6 separate regions of the Homo sapiens genome follow, and all the other regions are reported to be linked to region 5. Evidence: microRNA targets listed by miRTarBase, many of them from high-throughput screens and not tested one by one. Region 5 holds a microRNA gene; each other region holds the end of a gene's coding sequence.
What was found. Region 5 holds the annotated microRNA hsa-miR-877-3p (UCCUCUUCUCCCUCCUCCCAG, at 2,985-3,005, opposite strand). A microRNA usually pairs through its seed, bases 2 to 8, with sites in the 3' UTR of a target mRNA and lowers its output. Matches are read on the target gene's strand: a 7mer-m8 pairs with bases 2 to 8, a 7mer-A1 pairs with bases 2 to 7 and ends in A, and an 8mer does both.

Region 1 (4,089 bases), not on the chromosome of region 5:
TCCTTTTTTCGAGACAGTCTGGCTGTTGCCCAGGCTGCTGGAGTGCAGCAGCGAGATCGGGGGTCATTGCTGCCTCTGCCTCCTGGGTTCAGGCGATTCTCATGCCTCAGCCTCCTGAGTGGCTGGAATTACAGGTGCGCACCACCACACCCAGCTAATTTTTGTATTTTTAGTAGAGACGGGGTTTCATCATGTTGGCCAGGCTGGCCTCGAACTCCTGACTTAAAGTGATCTGCCCGCCTCAGCCTCCCAAAGTGCTGGGATTACAGGCGTGAGCCACCACACAGAGCAAAAGTTTTCCAAAATGATTTTTCTTTCCTGTTGTAGTTCGATATCTCAATGCCTATACTGGAATAGTGCTACTTCGATGCAGAAAAGAATTCTATCAGCTTGTGTGGTCAGCTCTTCCCTTCATCACATACTTGGAGAACAAAGGACACCGTTACCCATGCTTTTTCAACACATTACATGTGGGAGGTAGGAGTGAGGTGGTATGGCTACTGATTTTCAATTGGTGACACGTTCACAGTTCAGTCTAAACTGGTGGGTGGGTCTTGCTGCTGTCCCGCTAACAAGACACTTCCCCCTACCTCTGAAAGTCTGTAAGGTCGAGATCTTTCACAAGCTGTTGACCACAGTAACTCATATGCCAGGTACAATAAGAACATGTCAGAAGTTCCTAATTCAGTACAACAGGAGACAGCTGTTGATCTTGTTGCAGAACTGCACTGATGAAGGTAAGCAACACTAGCCCAGTGCCCACTGAGCAGTGACTGACCTTAAGCTGAAGAAATCACTCCCAAAGATATCTTTCATCCCTGTTATCTGCCTTCTCCAGGAGAGCGGGAAGCTATCCAGAAGTCTGTGACAAGAAGCTGCTTATTAGAGGAGGAGGAGGAGTCAGGTGAGGAGGCTGCAGAAGCAATGGAGTGAACCTCTGCTCCCCACACAGCTGGCTACACTGCTCAGGCTTCAGGCCCACTTGTTGAACAGAACAATCTGGGTAGCAACAGCATCTTCCACAGTTTTCCAAACTGGATAGCTGCCAACCAGCAGACATTACCCACTTGAAATGGAGTACTCAGTTAAACTGAAGTTGCCTTTACCTAGCATTCCCTGGTGAAGTGTTGCAGGTTGTGAACTCTGTAGACATCTTTATTGCTTGGCTAAGAGTAGATTTAATAAATGTATCTGGTTTCCGTGGCATTTAGCATACTTATATTACAGAAAGGGCTTATGGAGTCCATGCTTGGCCAAGTCTCTGTTCTCTCTCTATCCCTAGCCTTGGTGGGAAGACTGACTCCCTATGTGGTACTAGTTAAACTTTTTTTTTTGAGACAGTCTCAGTCTATCACCCAGGCTGGAGTGTAGTGGCCCAGTATCGGCTCACTGCAACCTCCGCCTCCTGGGTTCAAGCAATTCTCCCACCTCAGCCTTCCAAGTAACTGGGATTACAGACGTGCACCACCACGTCTGGCTAATTTTTGTATTTTTAGTAGAGACGGGGTTTTGCCATGTTGGCCAGGCTGCTGTTGAACTCCTGGCCTCAAGTGATCGGCCTACCTTGGCCTCCAAAAGTGCTGGGATTAAAGGGTGAGCCACTGTGCCTGGCCTAAATTTTCAATACTTAGCCTTCTACCTGAAGCTTTGTACCCCCGGCCCCATGATGGGCCCTAAGCAAGCCAAGTCATTTGGAATAGAAATATTAGTTGAGACACAGCAACTGAACTGGCAGAGATCTACAGCCCATCTCAGTACTGAACCACAGGGTCTTACAGATACCAGATTCCTTGCCAATAGTTAATCAGGTAACTTAAAAAATACAACTTTGGGCCGGGCGCAGTGGCTCACACCTGTAATCCCAGCACTTTGGGAGGCTGAGGCGGCCAGATCACAAGGTCAGGAGATCAAGACCATCCCGTCTAACGCAGTGAAACCCTGTCTCCACTAAAAATACAAAAAATTAGCTGGGCATGGTGGTGGGTGCCTGTAATCTCAGGTACTCAGGAGGCTGAGGCAGGAGAATGGCGTGAACCCGGGAGGCAGAGCTTGCAGTGAGCTGAGATCCCACTACTGTACTGCAGCCTGGGCTAGAGCGAGACTCTGTCTCAAACAAAAAATGCAACCTTTGCAGTTGGGGGGGGCGCGGGTGCTGGCCTCATCTGACATCATTACTGCATGGTCATGTAGCAGCTGTCCACTTAAGGAACTTAAGGTAGTTTTTGTAGTTCCGCTCTTATTGCGCCTGAATACAAGGCGCCCTGAAGACAAGTCAGACTGCCATACTCACAGGAAGTAGGAATGGCGGGAGACTTGTGATCCAGGTTTGATCTGCTACCTACTGACATTTCTGGGATCTGTTTTCTCCATAATACAATGGATGAGACTGAAAGTACCATACACATTTAACAGAAACACTGGTGATTCTGGCTTCAACATGCCCCCTCATCTGGAGGCCAGAACACCCTCATCCATCCAGGAAATTTCCTGATAGGATTTCTTTTAAAATGGCAGGTTAAAGCTAAGCCCAGCTCTAGAACCATTTAAACCTGACACCAGAAAAGACAGCCTACAATATCATAGTAGCTGTCACGTTAACCTATTCAAGAAATAACTTGTCTAGCTTACCTGTAATGAACTTAAAAAAACAAAAAGCTCACAATGCTTGTGCAGGTGATTTATTGCAACTATTTGCCTTCGCATTCTAATGCACCTAGAGGTCACTTTATTAAGCAGCAAAAGAATTCACATCAAATTCAGCTCAAACCAAGGCATAAGAAAACTGCTCTAGATGAGAGGGAGATGGTGGCAATGCTACCGCTTCAGATGGCCCTGCTCTCCTGCAGCTGTACCAGACTCCTCCTCCTATGACTCAAGCCAGTCACTGAAAACAAGCTCGATCTTAGGGGTAGCAGGTCTCAGGGCTTCGTGAGTTACAGCTTTCCTTACCAACTCAAGCCATGCTCAAGAAGAGGCAAAACCCTCCTTTCACACATGCAAGTGCCAAGGACAGCCTACTCCATTAAGCTGGCACCACAGCCTGGCCATGTGTCAGAAAAAAAAAAACTGCAATTCAAACTGGGTGTCCTAAATCCATTTTATTCCCACCCCTGTTTCTTTAACAAGGAGAACTAAATAGGTAGTAAAGATTCAGCTGTTTTTTAAAAGACAAACTGAGAGGTGTACTGAGTCCAGGAAGCCCTGACATGATGCTACAGCAGAGCAGTGTGTGCCATTCTGGGTTGGACTGCTCTAATGCATCTCAAAGGGGACTCAATCTTACTTTGGGTTGAGAAAAATTAATTACACATGGGTCAAAAAGACTAAACTGGCAATGAACTAAAAACCTTGGCAGGAAGAGATCTCTTGTGTCAATACTTTATTTTGGTGTAAAGACAGGAAGCTGGAAAATACACTGTATTTAAAATTTTCTTGGTTCCCCCTCACATTGTGGAAACCCCCTCCCCCCAGAGCTAATCTGTTCAAACTCAAATACTTAAAAATTACAGCAGCCAAACAAAAGCATGGGGGAAAAAAAAACAAAAACAAAAACCAGATGGAGAAGGTAGCCTGGGCCAGTAGTGTCACTTGGTGTGGACGACTGAGGTGCTGAACAGGAGCTTCTGTTTCTGTTTTTTTCTTTTCTTTCCTCCTTTCTCTTCTAAAGGGAGACACAGAAAGACAGCTTAACTTAAAATGCCATCCCTTGTCCCCTGGCCAGTTTTCATTACTGAGAGTCACAGAGTGGGAGCTAAGAGTGGAGGCTCTGGAATTAGACTGCCTAGATGCCAATACCAGTCTTGGTATACACCAAGTGGGTGTCTTTGGGCAAATCACTTTTACCTCCCTGGACCTCAGTTTCCCCATCTGTAACGTGAGGTACACCCATTTAACGTGGTTGTTGGGAGAATTAGCACAGTGCTAGGCACATAGCACGCCATACATATGTGATTCTTGTCTAGTCATGAACAGAGTGCAACAGGCTTCGAGACTGACTTCTCCATCTAATTAGCCACCCTGTACCAACTCAAGATTCTAAAGGATACAGGTTGTACACCCCACTGTATCTTGGAAGAGTTCCTCAGAATT
Region 2 (4,086 bases), not on the chromosome of region 5:
GGTTCTCAAAGGCAGGAAGACTTGAGAAGTCAGGAGGAGTAGCATCTCCCTATTGCTTTCTTCCCAGTCTGCATTTGTCCCCATTTCCATTCTGCATTCCCATCCTGCAATGTGCTTAGCTCTCAGCCACCCTCCTCCCTTATCAAAATGCATTTTCTTCTCCCCTTTACCCCCTGCAGCTTTCTGAAGATGAGAGTGACTTGGAGATCTCCTCCTTGGAAGATCTTCCTCTGGACCTGGACCAGAGAGAGAAACCCAAGCCCTTGTCTCGCTCAAAGCTCCCAGAGAAGTTTGGCACTGGTCCACAGAGCTCTGGCCAACCCAGGGTCCCTGCCTGGTGATTCACCCCAGAAGCTAGCTGGCTAGAGGGTTAGCCTGGCTGGGGCCAGCTCAGGTCCACTTCAACAGAAGAGGCTGCTGGGCCTCTTGTCTTCACAAACAACCAAGAGATCATCCTCTTGGAGAGAAGCAGTGCAGGGAATGGATATGATCTCATCCCTCCTGACCTGTGAGGGGCCCTGCTGTAGATGGCCACAGGTGCCTGACTAGGAGCCCCTAGGTCCCCAGGCTTGAGAAAGGGTTAAAATAGAACCTCCAGGTAGTTTTCTTCCTCTACCTCCACATCCCCCCAAGACTGAAAAGAGTCACTAACTCTCTTTTCCCAAGCCTTTTATAAAACTGCAGGAACACTGTGGAGATGGTTCCTATCTGGGGTCCTTTTGGGGACATATGCCTCAGTCAGTCATTCAGTGATTGATCCAAAATTATTTACTGAGTGCCTACCTACTCTGCGCCAGGCTCTCTAGCCTCTCACTACTGAGTTAGGGTGCAGGCAGAGGCTGGGGCAGAATGTTTACAGCCAGTGCCAGCACAAGGTAGTAATCTAGTGACAGAGAACAGGGTGTTATGGGGAGCATATGAGAGGCCATCTATCCCAGCCTGGGTGATCCTGGAGAGTTTCCCAGGGTTGTGATATGTGGCAGGCCTACTCATGGGTGGGAAGGGAGGATGGCCACTTGGCTGGACCTTGTATCCCCAAAGGACCACACGTGTAATTTTTGATATTATTTCCAAAATCAGGTTTTATACATAGCCATTGTATATTTTTAGTGTGAAAAACATTAATATATTATATGCAAACATTTAAATATAGTACAATGTTTTTAACTCTGGTATGTATTTCATTATTTTTGGAGCTTTCAGGGGGTTGGGAGGGAAGGAAGCAACTGCATCTTAATTGTGTCAGTTTAGGTCTTTTGGGACATGGTTGCCAAGATGGAGTTATTGAGGAGCTGCACTTGGGAAAGAAAAGGAGGTGGAGGTAGGATCCAGTGGGGAAAGGCCGCAGACTGCAATGCACACCTGACCACTGTGAACAGAAAGAGAGAAGGAAGCTGGAGGAGCCAGGAGAACTCAGGGCATTGATGTGTTGACAAGGTCTCCACTGACCCAGTGGGGAGCTCCTGAGCAAGAACTGCCCACTTGGGAGTCCCCATTGTGCAGAAATGGCCAGGCTCTCATGCCTGCACTGCACTTGGCCATTGGCTGGGGTGGCCCAGACTGAATGAGACCTTGACTTGAAAGCTGGAGTGAACCTTGGAGTGAACCTGTCAGTCAATTTCATTTCTCCTGGTTGAGTGGCATTTTTTTTTTTTTTTCCTGAAAGGGAGACCTAGCAAAGAACCTCCATCCCTGACACAGCAAAGATCTATTTTTAACTTTTTGTTATGGAAAGTTTCAAACACATATATGAGTAAAGGGAATAGTGTGATGAACCCATGTGCTCATCACTGGGCTTCAAATATTATCAGCTCAACTCAAGGTCAATCTTGTTTCATCTATTACCACCTCCAACTCACCCAGACTTCCTTTGACCTTTGGGTGGTCCTGACACCTGGAGAGGCCTTGAAGTTCTCGTAGGAAGGTGATGGAGGAAACACACTGCAGGGAGCAAAAGGGGTCTGGTGGTGGAGTAGGGTAGCTGGGGGAGGGGGCAGGCTGGGGGTGTTGTCGTACAAAGGAAGCTGCTCAATGAGGAAGCTCAGGAGAGCTGGAGAGCTGATGCTACCAGATCAGCCCACAATCTTGATGGGATGGGAGTTGATGAGTAATTGCTCCAGGCTTCCTGTGCTTCTGTGGGGCACCTCTGAGTTTTATTCTGCACAGTTTCTCAGAGTCCCTTGTGGGATTGAGTGCTAGTTCTCACTAGTATGCAGTTACTATTATTAATGCATAGTTCATCGGCCTTCCTCTTTTCTGTTTCATTTTTCTCACTCCCTTACTTCTTTCTCTTATGAGCACCTCTGAGGTAAATTAATCTGCACCCAAGTCCTTGTTTCTAGCTCCACTTTTGGGGGAATGCAAATGTAAACAGTAAATGTGTTTGGACTTGTGTGCACACACTGGTGATGATTATCAATGAGAATGTCTCTGTTCTTGAATGTTCATCATTACGTTATATGTTTCCAAATGGGTTTTTCTATCTACTTTGGAGGGTTTGACTAACGTATTACTTTGGTGTTTCTATGCTGTGTTCACCCCTTCCCATTTTCAAATATATTTTAAAATTCTTTAGTAAGTTGTATTAGGTCTCAATAGAAACAGAACTAGTAGGATATATGGATAGATAGATACTTATGGGTATTTATTAGCCAGTTTCCCTAATAAATGACAGGGGATTTATTAAGGGAATTAGCTGATGTGATCACGGCATAGGCTGTCTGCAAACTGGAGAATGAAGGAAGCTGGTAGAGTGGCTCAGTCTAAATCCGAAAGCCGGAGAACCTGGGACTGTTGGTGCAGGTCCTGGGGCCTGAGAACCTGGAGTTCTGACATCCAAGGACAGAAGCTGGGTGTCCCAACTCCAGAGAGAAAGCCTTTCTATATAGGCTGGCAGCAGATTGGATGGTGTCCCCCACAATGGGAGAGGGCAGATTTTCCTCACTCAGTTTACTGATTCAAATGCTAATCTCTTCTGGAAGCACCTTCTCAGACCTACTCAGAAGTAATGCTTCACAGCTGTCCAGGTATCTCTTGCTCTCATTAAATTGAACTAAAATTAACCAGCACAAGATTTGCCAGAACTGTGGAACGTATGTAACAGATCATTTAAAAATTAGACAAATGATAAGGTTGATACAGAAAAATTAGAAAATACAGATAATCAAAAAGAATATAACCCACAAATTCAGTCAATTATTGTTAACATCTAGATGTACATGCACTGGTGAAAAAAAAAACTCCTTCCTAGGGTTCAACTATATTCTTCTCTAGCTTGATTTTCTCCTGGAAAACAGATTACAAATGTCTTTATATCAGTACACATGTACATGTCAGTACGTATAAATATAAGACAGTTATATATAATGGCCACCTCGTATTCCAGGCAAAGATTACAAAAGTTTTTTTAACCAGACATTTCTACTTTTTGCATTTTATAAATCATGAAGTGATTAAAAAAATGTGTATATGTGTCTTTGTGCACTTGATTAAGATTTCCTTAAAATAAATTCTTAGAAGTGAGGTTGCTGGGCCAACATAATAATGAAAGCCAGCACCATATGCCAGGCACTGGTCCAAGTTTGGTACCAATATTATGATTTAGCCTCACAGCAGCCCTTGAGATGGATGCCACTATTATAGTACATGCATTTCATGGGCTAGGAATTGAGGTACACAGCAGCTAAGAAACTTGTTTTGGGTCCTGCCACCAGTGAGTGGTGTGACTGCAATCTGACTTTGGCAGCCTGGCCCTGGCACTCTAGCTCCTTTCCCCATGTACTTTTGTTACATATTGCCAAATGCTTTCCAGAAAACTGGAGCCAATTTAGTCTACTAGTGTTTGGAGCACACAAGAAAGCTAGTTTTTGCATTCCCTTGCTACCAGGGATATCATTAATCTTTCAATGTTTTGGCCACGTGATACGTGAAAAATGAAACCTCACCTTTTAAGAAACTTGCATTTTTAAGATTTCTTCTAAAGTAAAATTATTTTTTATTTCTTTTTCATGTTGGTTGTTGCTATTTCTTCTTTTATGAGTTGCCCGTAGTTCACTTTTCTTGTTGCTGTTTTCTTTATCTCTTTAT
Region 3 (4,089 bases), not on the chromosome of region 5:
GCTACCTGAATGAGTCTTCAGTTTCTAAGTCTAAGAATTGTAGCAGCTTTCCAATGACATTCAGTAGTCTGATATGGGGGAAAAAATACTTAAAAAAATGTCCTCTCTTCACTTCCAAAATGTGGGAAAGTTATTTTTCTATAAGCAGAAATGTGTTCCTCCTAATATCTCCTTTCTCCCAAGATAAACCATGGTTAATGATATAGGTATAGATTACTCCTCAAATACAAATAGAAGATGGAGATGGTGATCTTTCTTGTTAATGGTACTAAACTTACCCTTACTCAGAACATTGAACTTGAACCCTACTCAACTTTTAAAATACTATAGGCTAAGTTATAAAAATAATCTAGCAACCTGAGAAAGAGATTAATATCAAAAAGAGAAAATTCAACAAACCAAGACAGAATTTGGTTAAGAATACAAAATAAAAAGCATAAGGGCAATGCAGAAAGCAGTAAAACTGTGTACCCAGACATACGGTAAAATCTGAGTAACAGGCAATAACCATTCATTTTATAGCAAGGTAAAACATACCCAATAAAACATGATTATGATATATTTCTGCCCCTTTTAAGTATAATGACATTCACCCATGATTCTTGATTACTTTGTTATGGAACTCGGGTATTTTCACTGAAAGTTTCCCTCAGAATAGAAATGCCTTTAGGGCAAACCAAGCCATGGAGAATCTGAAATATAAAGGATATGTTATGGAAAAAAAAAGATTTTGCTTTTTGTCTATGGGTTTCCGGATTCTTTGCTTTTTCATAAGTGGTCATAGTTTGCTTTTTAACACAGGAGGTAGGGCTGTATTCTTTTTACATCCTTCATTACAAATTTTATTTGAAGCTCATGTATTCAAATAAAGTAAAATTTAACCCAAGAATCCAAAATATTGTCTTGTGATATGGTAGTTATAAAAAGGATTATCATTGTCTGTGATTATTTGAATAAATAATTTTTATGTTCATTATATGTAGTAAATTTAGGATGTAAGCTTCCAGGGTTTGACACTTTAAACTTGTAAAGAAATAAAAATAATTACGCTTTACTTCCGATAGTTTTTGGAGATTTAAAGCTGTCTTTGTCTTGAATTATCATTCCAAAATCATTATTAGGAACAATGGAGCTTTATGGGGCTGTTTGACCTTAACACTGGAACAGGTCTCAAGGTGAACTGATTTTCAGAGTTTGCTAACAAGCACCAAATCAAGATGCAGACACTGGAACAAAGAGTAATTACAATGAACCTTTCATTAAGAACCTGATACACAAAGTTAAGTCCCGACTTGATCCCTTAAAAAATCTGCTTAGAGAAGTTTGATTTGTATCTTATCTGATCAAACCCAGATACTTTAAGACAAAAGTAGGAAATTAGAACAGATATCACCAAACTGTTTTCTTCTCACTTCTCTACTGTGAGAAACAACGTAGTAAGTGGGCAAACAATATTATGTGGAATTCAGAATAACAAAATAAGGCATTCTGGAAACTTTACCCTTGTGAGACAGTCGTATTTCTACATACTACATAATAGTTGTGCTCCTTTTGGCAAGCACTTCAATTTCATTCCTCACAGTACTTAAAAATCACTCAATGAACTTATAAAATGAACTTCAAAGAAAGAAAAAAAAGGAAACAGAAGGCGGCCAGGTGTGGCGGTTGACGCCTGTAATCCTAGCACTTTGGGTGGCCGAGGTGGGAGAATGGCTTGAGGCTAGGAGTTTGAGGCCAGCCTGGGCAACAGAGTGAAACCATTTCCAAAAAAATTTTAAAAAGAAAAAAAAAAAAGCCAGACATGGTAATGCATGCCTGCAGTCTCAGCTACTCAGAAGGATCACTGAAACCAGGAGTTCAAAGTTACAGTGAGCTATGATGGCACCACTGCACCCCAGCCTAGGAGACAGAGTAAGATCCTTTGTACGCATAAAAAGAAAAAACATATCCTGTTTATCAACTTTACAGCTGAAGACCTTAGTCTGATCAATGCCAGGTTCCTACATAAAGAGTTCACAAAATTTCCATGGCACTTAATAGATTTAAGCTATGAACTATATAACATGGATGTGAATGTGTGTGTCTGTGACTGTATGCACACAACATACAAATACAGATCTGTTGGTATTCCTTCTTTCTAGGATTTGTTACAATCATAGTCGGTATGAGATAATGGAAAATAAATTATTCTATTAACATATATATTTTGTTAAACATTTTATTTATGTGGCACTCTGAAACGAGCAACCTATGAAGGCATAAAATAAAAAGATTTTTTTTTAACTCGGGAGGTAAAGCTAGATATATCAATTAGGAACTGATTCATGGTGTGATGTACACGACATGTTGAAAGAATGCCAAAAAGGCGCAAACCATCATACATTAATACAAAGGACAAAAACAAAAAAAACCCCAGCATCTTCTTGCTATGAGGCAATAAGGCACTGCTAAGAGACTTGAGCACCAAAATGATTCTCTACAAATTCCTTCCTTTTTATACTGCAAATACTGCATTATTATATTCAAACCTTTAAAAACTAGGTAATACTTAAGATTTAGAGTCAACTTACTTTGTGGGAAATTCTATTTGCTGCTTTTAAAAACAGGTTAAAATAAGCTCTTAAAAATTAAGTAACAATAATCATATACAATACAGATATATAAAAAGGGTTGGTTTATTGTAGTTCAAATACATAAACTGAACATTCAAACATCTTAAAATTAAACTTTAGCAACAAAGTTTAACATTCAAACAGGAGTATAGTTTACAAGAAACACCCAGAAAGGTAATTTGTTGTCTAATCCAGAATATTGATAAAGATCACTTAATGGTGAATAAAATATGTTTAACCAGTGGTTCTATTCTGGCCAACATGTTAGTTATGACCGTGGTTCCATACCTGAGAAGAAATTACTACATAAATCTTCTCTTAGGCTAAACAACAAGACTCGGTCTATAATTCAGAGGGGATAATCAAAGCACGTAAGTGAACAAATAAAACTAATCTGATCTTTAGAGACAAAGGTAAAAGTATTGTCCATTATAATAATTGTAGCCTCTGGAAGATAAGAATTCAATTTTCAGTGTTTTCTCTTTTACCCGCTTTAAAAAAAAAAAATCAAAACAAAACAAACCCCAACTCGGGTTTTCTTGGAGTCTGTGGTATTTGCATCTGGCAAGTTCAAGCCACAAATGCTCTTACTTCTTGCATGTATTAACACTGCTAGGAAGAACGTCACCAAGTCACTGACTTCCACACCTCATAAAAGGATGAATTTTAGCTTCAAGATTTTAAGATTTACTAGAGACAGCCTATATTTGAGTATGTATGTCAGTCATGCCACACAAAGAAAAGCATAAATATTTCCAAAGTGTTCTGTTCAGAAACTGTTCACAAATGCTTCTCCTTCTGTTTGTCAGATGGTTTCGCAATAGGTTGACTAATGCACATATATGTAAAAACCTGAAAATTGGCTCATGCAAGCATTTTGAATAGATGCCCCTATGGAAGAGTATTTAGAATTATTTTGTTGATCGTCTCGTGGGCTCCGATGCTGTGGGAGGTGGGGGTGGACCCCGGCGATCCAGGTCATCAACATATGCCACAATCAGTTTACGCCTCTCCTCTGGCACACAGTCCAGTACTAGATACCGTTTGTCATTCTGTAAAATTTTTTCTACATCTTTCAGGTGCTGATCTGATTCTTGGATTAATTTTTTGGATCTGAAATAAGAAAAAGAAGTCCAAGAATTACTGACTGCTGTTCACAGGTCTTTCAGAAATGAGCTGGAAATGTCCATCTAGTTCCTAATTGTGTTTCCATTTTTTTTTTTTTTTTTTTTTTTAAGAAAAATTTCACGGCAGTGGTCACCTTTGTAAGTCGCCTCAGCAAAGACTCCAAGGAGTGAAAGGGCCTCAGAAGCTGAATTACCCTCCCACCCCTAGTGGTGGTCCCTCCAGATCAGGGCTGAGGGTGGGTGGGTAAATCTTGCCCGTGCTGTACCTGTTCTGTGGATGAACAGAGGACTTCAGTCTGCGGGGCTGCCAATCCCAGCATCTTTCACAAGCTTTCACTTTCACATCTTTC
Region 4 (4,089 bases), not on the chromosome of region 5:
TGCTACAGGGAAGGTTTTGGGAAAGTCAACATCTTTGGGGAGCAGTTTCGTCATCTGTCAAAAAAGAAAAGAAGGGACTGGGCGTGGTGGCTCACACCTGCAATCCCAGCACTTTGGGAGGCTGAGGTGGATGGATCACCTGAAGTCAGGAGTTTGAGACCAGCCATGGTCAACATGGCGAAACCCCGTCTCTACTAAATATATATATATATTTTTTTCTTGACTCTGTTAAAAAGAACGTGCCTTTCATATACTGTACAGAAGTCTGCCAAGCAGAATGATTGACAATAGCTACCATTTGTCTGTGGTCTGTGACGTGCAGTGCACTACGCTACAGGTTTATGAGTTATCTCACTTAACGGACTCCAGAAAACTCTTCTTACCCTTTGCAGGTAACAAACTTAGTCAAAAAAACTGTCACATAAGGTTTCTGCTTGTTTTTTAACGATCCTCAATCATCAAAAAGAGAAATGGTTGAGATGAGAAAACCTTACGAACTCAGAAAATGCAAATCAAATGAGACTCTTGAAAACAAAACTGGCAAAGCGTGCTGTCTCCAGGAGGCCCATGCGACATGACACCACCTGCAGGACAAAGCACATATTTACCCCAACCCTTCAAAGGCAACTGCAGCAGCGTCTTCTCTTCAGAAGGAAGGACTGCAGGGACACGCTGAGGAAGCACACAGGTTTCCATTTTCTGAATTCAAGCACAAGCCTGAGGTACCTCAAAGAAAGAACAAATGCCAGTAAAATAAAAGGACGATTCAAAACTTAAGAGCTGGGCGCGGTGGCTCACGCCTGTAATCCCAGCACTTTGGGAGGCCGAGGCGGGCGGATCTCTTGAGGCCAGGAGTTTGAGATCAGCCTGACTAACATAGTGAAACCCCATCTCTACTAAAAACACAAAAATTAGCTGGATGTGGTGATGCATACCTGTAATCTCAGCTACTCAGGAGGCTGAGGCAGGAGAATTGCTTGAACCCAAGAGGCAGAGGTTGCAGTGAGCTCAGATCGTGCCACTGTATTCCAGCCTGGGAGATAGAGTGAGACTCTGTCTTAAAACAGAAGTAATTTTTAGGCAGGCATAAATTATACTGGGCTTTAGGAGAATATTTCCTGCATAGTATCCTATATTTCCTGATATTAACATCAGGAAAATCAACTAAAATTAAATACACTAAGTAAACAATGCACAAAAATCACATTTTAGAAAGTGACCTGGGAGTTGAAGTCCAGTTTCCCCAGGAAAATGTGCGCAAAAGTGTAATGAGAATTGTACAGTTTATGAACTCTCTGCCAAATTTTGCTTGGGTCTTTTTATTTTATATAGTCTGAATATAGTTTTCTTTTTTGTGGGGGATGGAGGCTCGCTCCGTCACCCAGGCTGGAGTGCAGTGGTGCAATCTCAGCTCACTGCAACCTCCGCCTCCCAGGTTCAAGTCATTCTTCTGCCTCAGCCTCCCAAGTAGCTGGGACTACAGGCGCCCACCACCACACCCAGCTAATTTTTGCATTTTTAGTAGAGATGGCATTTCACCATATTGGTCAGACTGGTCTTGAATTCCTGATCTTAGATGATCTGCCGGTCTCGGGCTCCCAAAGTGCTGGGATTACAGGCATGAGCCACCACATCCAGCCTAGTCTGAATGTTTTCAATTGGTATCAAATATATTTACTTTTTTTTTGGCTTGGTAAAATGCCATCTTGACAAAGCCAGCTTCCAGAGCTAAACTTAAAATCAACCCTTGATACTAAATCCATCATAGGTGGATAGGCACCTGTAAGCAGTTTAAAAAAACAAAAGTATTTCTGAAGTACCTGTACATTAAACAGTTGAGGCCAGGGGCGGCGGCTCACACCTGTAATCCCAGCACTTTGGGAGGTCGAGGCAAGCAGATAACCTGAGGTGAGCAGTTCAAGACAAGCCCCATCAACATGGAGAAACCTCATCTCTACTTAAAATAAAAAATTAGCTGGGCATGGTGCCACATGCCTGTAATCCCAGCTACTCAGGAGGCTGAGGCAGGAGAATCGCTTGAACCCAGGAGACAGAGGTAGCGGTGAGCCAAGATGGCACTATTGCACTCCAGCCTCGGCAACAAGAACAAAACTCCATCTCAAAAACAAACAAAAAAACAACTGGCCCCACAAATGGCAATTGAGGCCAGACACAGTGGCTCACACCTGTAATCCTAGCAGTTTGGAAGGCTGACGCAGGAGGATTGCTTAAGGCCAGGAGTTTGAGATCAGTATGGGCAACACAGGGAAACCCCATCTCTACTACTTAAAAAAAAGAAAAAAAGGGCATCTGATGTACTGAATACAAAGATCAAGTACTGAGGACGAAGATTACCACCGGATACCACGTCGGGCAGGTACCCTGGGAAATTGTGATGTCTGTATCCTTCAAATTGCTTGGTGATGTCAACTAATACAGAAAGAGCTCTTAGTAGAATGTCTGGCACATCATAAAGCCTCGGTAAATTAGGCACAATTGATATCATCACTTAAAAATGGTGGCCTTTTAAAAACGCCACATGGCAAAACCCCATCTCTACAAAAAAATACAAAAATCAGCTGGGCGTGGTGGTGTGCACCTGTAGTCCCAGTTACTCAGGAGGCTGAGGCAGGACTGCCTGAGTCCAGGAGATTGAGGCTGCAGTGAGCTGTGATTGTGCCACTGCACCCCAGACTGGGCAACAGAACAAGACTGTCCCTAAACAAAACAGGGCGGGCGTGGTGGCTCACACCTATAATCCCAGCACTTTGGGAGGCCAAGGTGGGCAAATCACTTGAGGATCAGGAGTTCCAGACCAGCCTGGCCAACACGGTGAGACCCTACCTCTACTAAAAATATAAAACTCAGCTGGGTGTGGTGGCATGCACCTGTAATCCCAGCTACTTGGGAGCCTGAGGCAGGAGAATCGCTTGAACCAGGAGGTGGAGGTTGCAGTGAGCCGAGATCGCACCAGTGCACTCCAGCATGGGCGACACAGCGAGACTGTCTCAAAAAATTAAAATTAAAATAAATAAATAAAATAATGACTCGGTAGAAAAGCAACGTATTTCATAGAAAGCATTTTATTATCAGAACAGTATGGTTTTCCTATGTTTAAGATCTATTTATTATGTTATTTTTACAAGTAGCAAAGTCCCTCCGTTTTTTTCCCCAGGTGAATGTACATGAATATAAAAAGTGGCTGATGTCCACACTGCTCGGCCCACCCGCATCAGGGTCGGCAGGAAGTTGCGGCTGATGAGCAGCTCCCGGAGCGGTGGGGCGGGGCCTCCTCTTCTCCAGTTCCAGTACGCTCATCAGTCGTCCTCCTGCTGATTTCTCTTCTGTCAAAGAAAACCAAGGGGATGTTAAAATAGCACATGCTCCTTGGGATATCTGCTCAGCAGGTGTAATTTTCTAGAGGTCTTGGCAAAGGATGTAATTAAAAATTGTCATGGAAAACCATGCTTTAATTCATTAAACTAGTTTATCACTTTGACTCCTGAGCAAATTATCCTCAGGTATTTGAGTATTTTCTTCTCTTTCTTCCATACATACAAAAACTCCTACACAGAAATCCACACAAAAATATAAATATTCACATCCCCTCTTGAGTAAAATCACCACCAGAGCAGAGACCTGCTCTCCTTACAGCCTTCTAACAATATACACACTTTCTTCAAAGTTACAAGTATTTTGAAAAATGTTCAAAAGGCATGTACAGCATAAAAACATTTTCTGTCATTCTAATCAATAAATTATGCCTTCAGCTCCTATTTCATATTTAATTAGAAAATGCTCTAACTCAGTAACTTGGTTCCATTCATAACCATCAAAGTCTAGGTGATACAGGATTCCAATGAAATATTATATAAAAGCCAATTTGAAGGTCTATTTGAAAAGATGGCCAGCATACTAAATGCACATAGACTTTACCAGCTTAAGGAAGTCTATTAGCTTGTGAGCGTCCTCCCCAGTAGAGAGGTCTACAAAGTCCTTGGGTAGCCGGTAACTCAAATAGGGGCTGGGCTGGACTGTCACTTCACTGTTTGTGCAACGGAAAGCTGGGGAATCCTGTACAAAGAAGAA
Region 5 (4,089 bases):
AAGTGTTGGGATTACAGGTGTGAGCCACCACACTGGGCTCAGGCTGGTTTTTAACTCCTAAGCTCAAGTGATCTGCCTGCCTCAGCCTCCCCCAAAGAGTTGGGATTATAGGCGTGGGCCACCACGCCAGGCCAATTTTTTTTTTTTTTTTTGAGATGGAGTCTCGCTCTGTTGCCCAGGCTGGAGTGCAATGGTGCAATCTCAGCTCACTGCAACCCCCGCCTCCCAGGTTCCAGCAATTCTGCCTCAGCCTCCTGAGTAGCTAGGATATAGGTGCGCGCCACCGCACACGGCTAATTTTTGTATTTTTAGTAGAGGCGGGGTTCACTATGTTGGCTAGGCTGGTCTGGAACTCTTGACCTTAGGTGATCCCTGCTGGGATTATAGGAGTGAGCTACTGTGCCTGGCCCGTTTATGCAATTTTTAATCGTTCTATAAAAGACATATATTTCTTGTATAACCAAAACACGTGGGTGTGCCCCCTAGTTCTATCTTAATTCTCTTAGCTCTCCCCCCTGAACTGATCTAAGCTCTTTCCTCCTCTACTGCCCCTCTTAGGGAAATGAATCATCTATCATGAGTTCTGTATTTAACTCTACATTCTCGAGAGGCTCCCTGATTCCAGCTTCTGGCAAAAGCAGCTGTGTCTTCACATTTCTCATGCTCTCCCTCCTTGGCTCCAGGACTCACCGGTGTCAGCTTGCCAGTCAGCAGCAGGAGTAGCGTACTCTTCCCCACACCATTAGGGCCCACAATGCAAACTGCAAGATGGAAGACAGGTGGTCAAAGAGGTCCCCAGAGACTCTCCCTGTGGCTCCTGCTACACATCCCTGAGGCAACCCCGCCAACTCACTCCTTGAATCCATGTCGATGCCAAAATCCAAGTTCTTAAAGAGTGGTTTCTGTCCCTGGTAGCCGAATGTCACACCTGAAAGCCACGAAAAGAAGCAATTTATATTCTTTTCAGTCCCTGCAAAGTCCCTCTCATGTGCTGGCCTTGGAGAACAGGAGCAATCTCAGCCTTGGTGGAGAATTTAGGGTGCACATACATGCTTCCGGTGCTTCCTGTGGAGCAGCAGAGGCCCGCGGCACTCACCATGCAGACCCAGCACTGGAGGGCTGAGTGGTGGGGGGTCTGGAAAAGTGAAGCGCACAGTGTACTCCTTAGGGCGCTTCAGGAGCTCAGGGGCCTCCTGGGATTCCTCATCTTGGTTTTTCCGTCGGCATTTCTGCTGCTTCCGAGTCAGGGCTTCCTTCGTTTGTTTTTCCTGGAGAGGAAGAGGAAAAAAGAGAAACCTGAGCCCTGCGCGGCAGTCCTTGAAATGTAGGCCAGCGTTCCAGAGTCTCCTTCTTCCTCCACTGCCAGGAGAGAACAGTGGCCCCCAGCCCAGAAGTCCCTCAGGTGCTCACCGCCTGCTTGGTGGACTTCCCGCCTGCCTTCAGCTCCTTCAGCTTTTTCTCTTGCTTCTCATACTGTTTCAGCAGTTCTTTCTGCTTCTGCTGGTACATCTTTTTGAAGGTCACTGGGGCAGAAGAGGGGACCAGGCATCAGTGGTTGCTCCTCTTCCCAGCAAAGGGACAACCAGGGACTGGTGGTGATGGGGTAGGCATCACTGTCTGGAATTCTGACAGGATTCAGTTTATCTAAATAGGCCCTCCCACTCAGGCCTCTTTTCGAGGTTCTATCTCTTCCCTGCATCCACACACAATCCTACTTACTGTAATTGCCCCTATAGTAGTGGAGCCGCTGGGCATCGAGGTGGATGATATCAGTGCAGACATCATCCAAGAAGCCCTGGTCATGGGAGACGATCAGCAAGGTCTTCCGCCAGCCCTGGAGGTAGCTGGGTTTCAGAGAACAGGGTGTAAGTGTCACAGTGGTCAAGTGAGAGAGAATTCAGAGGAAGCAGGCAGACAACGGGGGCTGGGAGGGAAAGGGGGGTCTGAATAGAGCTCCACTCACAGGCACAGTGGAGAAGGGCTAAAGGAAAACAGGGCAGGGAGGGAAGGGGAAGAAAGTGCAGAATGGGAACCAATGATGCAAAGGCCGTAACGCACTTATTAAGCCAGATGACAGCGTTGAGGTCCAGGTGGTTGGTGGGCTCATCCAGCATCAGCAGTGTGGGCTCCATGAACAGTGCCCTAGAGGGTGGGTAGCAGAGGGCAGGGTCAGGGAGAGAAAGATCCTTGCTCAGACAACCCCAGAGAAAACTCGGAGATAGAGCCTGAGACCATGAACACTCCTTCCCAAGCTCTCCTCAGAGAAGTTCTCGGGCAGGATACGGTTTAATTTTTTTGAGACAGGGTCTCGCCCTGTTGCCCAGGCTGTCGTGCAGTGGCACAATAAGGGCTCACTGTAGTCTAAATCTCCCAGGTCTAAGTGATACTTCTACTTCAGCCTCCAGAGTAGCTGTGACCACAGCGTGCGCCACCATATCCAGCTGATCTTTAAATTTTTTGTAGAGACAGGGTCTCCCTATGTTGCCCAGGCTAGGATATGTTTTCTTCCCCCTTTTGTGAAGATAGAGTCTCACTATATTGCCCAGGCTGGTCTCAAACTCCTGGGTTGAAGATAATCCTCCTGCCTCTGCCTTCCAAAGTGCTGGGATTACAGGCGTGACCCATTGCACCCAGCTGCAGGGTATGTTGATGAGAACTCACCACCAAGTAGGGAGATAAATAGAGAAAGACCCTAAGTTCTCACAACACAGATAGTAAGGAGGGAGAGGTAAGCCTTGAGCCTCCCTATTGGCCTTGGAAGAATGAGAAGGGAAAGAGGAAAAGGGCCCCGGTGGTCTGAGGCTGGAAGGGAGGGCAGTGAGGTGAATGGCCCACCTGGCCAGGGAGACACGCATGCGCCAGCCCCCTGAGAACTTCTGTGTGGGTCGATTCTGCATTTCAGGGTCAAAGCCCAGGCCAGCCAGGATCCGCCGTGCTTTGGCCTCTGCAGCTGCCGCCCCAGTGGCCCGCAATTCCTCATACACCTGGGAGGAGGGAGAAGAGGACACACGTCTGAGGGTCCCAGGAACCCCCAAGTCTTTGCCCGTGTCCCCTGCGCCATCTCCTCTACCTTCTCTAGCCTCTCAGCAGCTGTGTCATCCCCTTGTTCCAGCTGTCCCTGAAGCCGCCGCTCCTCTTCCAGCAGCTTCAATCGCTTGGTGTCAGCTCGAAGAACAGCCTGGACTGCTGGTGTCTCATCTGCTACCACCTCTGGGAGGCAGAGGGAGAACAGTCAGGCAGCCTCAAGAGCCAAGAGTCTCATCTTTCTTTCCCTTCAATTACATTTCTGTTTTGCCTGACCCTGCCCAGCTCTTTGTACTTGTTCCAAATAAAACACTCTCAAGTTCCTCATTGACCCTCCCCTCCTTTCCTTAGCATCCCTTTCCCGGTCTCCAGTCTCCCTCCACATCCCTTCCAACTCCATAGCCACAATTTCTTCTATTCTTGGCTGGCTGGCTTTTCTACCCAACTGCCCACCCCACCAAGCCCCTTTTCTCCCCAGTGGTCTCACCCTGCTCACACAGCAACACATCAATGTTGGGAGGGATGCTCAGGGCTCGGTTGGCAATGTGCTTGAGGAGTGTGGTCTTGCCCTTGCTGGGGAATAAAAGCTATTAGGACCTGGCCACCACTGAGAAATCTCTTCTTTTCCCTCCAGGCCCTTTTTTGCCTCCAGCTCCCTCCTCTTCTCACCCATTGGGTCCTACCAGCCCGTAGCGGCGGCCGGCTACAATGTACAGGTCTGCATTGACGAACAGCTCCTTGCCATGAGCGGAGATGCTGAACTTCTCCAGCTGCAGCCATCAGGAAAGAGGTGGCAGAGGGAAGGGATGATCACATGAAAATTCTCCCTTTGGGACAGGAGCGGCCACTTTCTCCCTGCAGGGAAGCCTCTGACAAACCGCTACCTCCAGCATAATCCCCTTCCTCTCCCCACAGCCGGTCCCCGCCCTGTTCGCTGCCTGTAATGGGAGCCCCATGCATCCTCAGCTAGTCTAGTCTGTCCCACACTATTTTCTGCCAAGGGTGGACCCCACTTCTACTGGTTTTTCTATCTTCTTGCTCAAGTTGGCAGAACCTAAGGTGTGG
Region 6 (4,072 bases), not on the chromosome of region 5:
CACCTATTTATACATTACACAATTGAATATTCCTGCTTCTGAATCCAAACATATATATTCCCTTAACAGTTGAGACATACGGATGTGAGATATTTTTAAACTTCAATTTAAATCGTGTTCAAAAGCAAGAGGAGCATGCCTCACAACACAACCTTTATAAACTACATTCAGTTAAAAGTAAGAATATGTTATAGGTCCACTATTGGAAAATCATAAAAATAGATTTTCTGATTTCATCTAGATAGCCAGGTTGTATTACTGTTTAAGATTATACATAAAAAAGAAATACTCATTAAGTCTCCATTACATATTGAATGGGTAACATAATATTACACATACATGTTAAATTAACAGTTGTAAATTGTACTAAGATCTCCTAATGTACAAGTTTTAATGCATTTTCATTATACATATCAAATCAATACTATAAAAAATTTAAAGTGAGTTTGTTTTGAAATTTCACACATCTCAAATACTGTAAACAACTAGTTATGTCTTCGTTTGACAGGTGTCTATATTTGTTCCCTCAAAACAGGGACAACTATGTTAATCAAACATTCAGATAAGAATTTCAGGTAAGTGGGCTGGCGCGTGGCTCACGCCTGTAATCCCAGCACTTGGGGAGGCCAAGGCGGGCGGATCACCTGAGGTCGGGAGTTCCAGACCAGCCTGACAAACATGGAGAAACCCCATCTCTACTAAAAATACAAAATTAGCCAGGTGTGGTGGTGCATGCCTGTAATCCCAGCTACTCGGTAGGCTGAGGCAGGAGAATCGCTTGAACCCAGGAGGCGGAGGTTGAAGTGAGCCGAGATCAAGCCATTGCACTCCAGCCTGGGCAACAAGAGTGAAATTCCGTCTCAAAAAAAAAAAAAAAAAAAGAATTTCAGATAAGTGCCTGTCGGAGAATCCTTAAACTGTAATTTAGCCCCATCCTAACATCAAGTACTTTTTCCACTGTTATTTGACTATGGCTGATCTAACATCTGCTAAGGAGTTCCCAGGAGTTATCAGGTTACAAGTTTCAACTGACCCCTGGAAAGTGAATGGCTACTTTGGTGGCTTTATCTTGGTAATATGCAAATCTTGGTAAATTTGAAAAGAGAGAATTAAATAAGAAACACTCTCAAGAATGCTCAAGAATGTAAAACTCAAGAATTTGAGTTTTACAAATTACTTTTCAAAATAGAAAATGAAGTATCTGCCCAGATTGATGTTAGTATTATAGCAAGCTACCGGAGGTCAGGCCGTAGGATCAAAAACTACCAATGGTCATTTTCTGATACTTTAGAAACTAATCTCTTAAGTGAGGTCTAAAATGAGTCATACCAAACTGCATTTACAGAAGGACTCCATTATATTTTGAAGTTAGAGCAAGGAATGAACACTTTCAACAAATAAAGGACTAATAAAAGGGTAACAGAATGGGTATTATCTTGGTAAAACTCACAGTAAACGTCACTCTAAAGCTACAATTAACCTGATTTTGTAGTACCATAGTAGTTTGTCACATATTTATGCCTGTAGTCCATGAAACACCCTTAAATGCTCATTGCTGAAAAATTTCCACCAATGTGACACCAGCACTGATAAATTGGAGTTATCTTTAGCTTTTCAGAGTATAAAAAGCAGTTTCCTTTAAAAAAAAAAAAAGGTTTTTATGTTGAAGCAATTTCACTGTTGGCTATTTATCTTCCTCCCCCCTACCCAAATGAGGCTTGCTAAAAAGGAAAAAAAAAAAAACACCTTATGTGTACTTAAGAGTCAACTCTTGTATGAAAGGGTCATTACCAAAGGCCAGTATTCTTAGGCTAACTTCTTAGCTAGTTTTAAAATTATTACTCATTCCATTATTCATAAAATTAATCTCTCTGAATGACACAGATGGGTCCACTACTAAATTGAAGATAAAGCTTTCATAACTATTGTCTTATGAGCAGCATGAAGCAAACCTGCATCATGTGGAAAGATATCAAAACGTCTATGTGCAGTAAAAACATTAGGTTAACTATGCATTTTCCTATTGGTTTTACTGAATTTCTCTCAAGTTCTCCTTAAAGAGAGTAAGAAAAGAGTAGTCATGTCATTTCACTAAAAAATAAAAATGAATTCCTTTCTCTGAAGGATGTGAATTTTAAAGATTAAGTCCAGGATAGTGGATCACCAAAGGGTTGCAATATTCTTATCTATAACAATCTCAAATTGGATATGGAGGAAAATGGACAAGTTGTATATTAACAAAATACAAGACTATCTAGTACAGTTTGCCTTTTAAAAAAGAAATCTATCGTAGTGATTTAAGGCAAGTATTGCAAAAACGTTATGATCCCCAAACCAGAAAAAAATAATAATAATTATGTTTCCCTACCCAAGTAATTCTAACTGCGGGAAACATGTTATTAGAATTTGCCATAAGCTCAGAAGTTGAGCTGTTTTACTAGAAAATTAAACAAGTTTGACTAAATTTATACTCACTATTAAGTCACTTGAAAGCTTGCCTGCTGTCTCTTGTTTCAGGCTCCTGTATGTCACAAAATTAATTTGTTTCCATATTTCCTTTGGCAATTATAAGACAACTTCTGCCCAGCTTTTGTTAAAGGCTCATTTTACATTTAACCCCAGAATATAGCTCATATTTTCCTGGAATATTCAGGTGAATTTTCATTTGGACACTTAAGTTGTAGGAGTGTGAGTACACTAGGAAGACCCCAAGTCAGGTTTCTGTATTTAAGGGTGGGTGAAGTTTACCCAGATTCTTCTCCCCTTAAGTTGTTGGAATTCAAGGCAGCACCCTCATCTGGGAATTAAACAAGATTGGTTAGATAAATTTCACATCATACTAACATCTTAAAAGACGAATATGGGTAAAATATAAAGGAAGGAAAATTGAAAACTCCAAGACAGTAACTTTGAGATCAATTTCAGCTTTACTTTACATTTGCATTTATGCATTTGTTTGCAAAAAGTATACCTGTCCTTAACATTACTGCAATGTTCAGTTTAGTTTTAAAGTAGTACATAAAAATAAACAATTTAAGCTCCTATATATTTTACTGTTTCCAAGCTTCTACAGAACAGGTGTGCAAACTTAAGGTTTCTCATCTCAAACAAATCTCCATGCACGAACTAATCAAAAATGCTCAAGTCAGCAAACACGCAAAATGCATTAAAGAGAAACCTCGAATAATGTTTTTAAAAAACAAACTTTGGAACTTTTATAATTAAACTAAGTTGTTGCACCTCTCCTTTCATTTGCATATACCAAAGACTTCCAACAATAGATCTCGTACTTGGCACAAGGACATTTCAAAGAAACAAACAAAAAAAAAGAGAGAGAGAGAAAGGCAAAGAGGTTTACGCTGACTTGAGTGCAAGCTTAGTCCACTTCTTCGATGGTGGGTCCCCCGGAGGCTCCTGAACCGCCGCCGCCGCTGCCGCCGCCAGGACCACCTTGGTAAAGTTTGCTGATGATGGGGTTGCAAACTCTTTCGAGCTCTTTCTGCTTGTGTTCATACTCATCTTTCTCTGCCATCTGGTTTCGGTCGAGCCAGTTGATCACCTCCTGACACTTGTCGAGGATCTTGTTTTTGTCCTGCTCGCTAATCTTGCCCCTCAGTTTCTCGTCTTCCACCGTCTGCTTGATGTTGTAGGTATAGGACTCCAGGGCGTTTTTGGCCGCGACTCGGTCGCGATTCGCCTCATCTTCCGATTTGTACCGCTCCGCCTCCTGCACCATCCGGTCAATGTCGTCCTTGCTCAGACGACCTTTGTCATTGGTGATGGTGATTTTGTTTTCCTTACCGGTGCTCTTGTCGGCGGCGGTAACGTTAAGGATGCCATTGGCGTCAATGTCGAAGGTAACCTCGATTTGGGGGACCCCGCGAGGCGCAGGGGGAATCCCGGTCAGGTCGAACTTGCCCAGCAGGTTATTGTCCTTGGTCATGGCCCGTTCGCCCTCGTATACCTGCACCAGTACGCTGCTCTGGTTGTCCGAGTAGGTGGTGAAGGTCTGCGTCTGCTTGGTGGGGATCGTGGTGTTCCTCTTGATGAGTGGGGTCATGACACCGCCAGC

Region 1: the mRNA of RNF10 is a reported target of hsa-miR-877-3p. The part of its 3' UTR that is shown has no 7-base or 8-base seed match.
Region 2: the mRNA of DZIP1L is a reported target of hsa-miR-877-3p. Seed matches in the 3' UTR shown: 7mer-m8 at 408-414.
Region 3: miRTarBase lists TCERG1 as a target of hsa-miR-877-3p. The part of its 3' UTR that is shown has no 7-base or 8-base seed match.
Region 4: the mRNA of CDC123 is a reported target of hsa-miR-877-3p. Seed matches in the 3' UTR shown: 8mer at 3,291-3,298.
Region 6: the mRNA of HSPA2 is a reported target of hsa-miR-877-3p. The part of its 3' UTR that is shown has no 7-base or 8-base seed match.

Annotation. Positions count from the first base shown.
Region 1 is chr12:120,576,162-120,580,250 of GRCh38, reverse strand. RNF10 (ring finger protein 10) reads right to left here. Exons shown (of 17, transcript NM_014868.5): 17 at 2,663-3,661. The coding sequence ends at 3,585. It overlaps POP5 (POP5 ribonuclease P/MRP subunit), which reads left to right. Exons shown (of 5, transcript NM_015918.4): 3 at 328-477; 4 at 654-737; 5 at 839-1,487. The coding sequence ends at 933. Among named protein-coding and RNA genes, the nearest start is that of POP5, 3.2 kb to the left of the region's middle.
Region 2 is chr3:138,059,071-138,063,156 of GRCh38, reverse strand. It overlaps DZIP1L (DAZ interacting zinc finger protein 1 like), which reads left to right. Exons shown (of 16, transcript NM_173543.3): 16 at 180-1,167. The coding sequence ends at 341. Among named protein-coding and RNA genes, the nearest start is that of CLDN18, 51 kb to the right of the region's middle.
Region 3 is chr5:146,510,077-146,514,165 of GRCh38, reverse strand. TCERG1 (transcription elongation regulator 1) reads right to left here. Exons shown (of 23, transcript NM_001382548.1): 23 at 2,205-3,725. The coding sequence ends at 3,524. GPR151 (G protein-coupled receptor 151) reads left to right here. Exons shown (of 1, transcript NM_194251.3): 1 at 1-1,022. Among named protein-coding and RNA genes, the nearest start is that of GPR151, 4.1 kb to the left of the region's middle. RefSeq lists a silencer at 3,334-3,534.
Region 4 is chr10:12,249,566-12,253,654 of GRCh38, reverse strand. CDC123 (cell division cycle 123) reads right to left here. Exons shown (of 13, transcript NM_006023.3): 12 at 3,937-4,074; 13 at 3,066-3,344. The coding sequence ends at 3,318. Among named protein-coding and RNA genes, the nearest start is that of CDC123, 55 kb to the right of the region's middle.
Region 5 is chr6:30,583,313-30,587,401 of GRCh38, reverse strand. MIR877 (microRNA 877) reads right to left here and starts at 3,070; the gene lies at 2,985-3,070. It overlaps ABCF1 (ATP binding cassette subfamily F member 1), which reads right to left. Exons shown (of 25, transcript NM_001025091.2): 11 at 3,694-3,794; 12 at 3,512-3,597; 13 at 3,071-3,210; 14 at 2,836-2,984; 15 at 2,059-2,142; 16 at 1,720-1,844; 17 at 1,411-1,523; 18 at 1,097-1,268; 19 at 854-928; 20 at 691-761.
Region 6 is chr14:64,542,074-64,546,145 of GRCh38, reverse strand. It overlaps HSPA2 (heat shock protein family A (Hsp70) member 2), which reads right to left. Exons shown (of 1, transcript NM_021979.4): 1 at 2,909-4,072. The coding sequence ends at 3,377. Among named protein-coding and RNA genes, the nearest start is that of HSPA2, 3.4 kb to the right of the region's middle.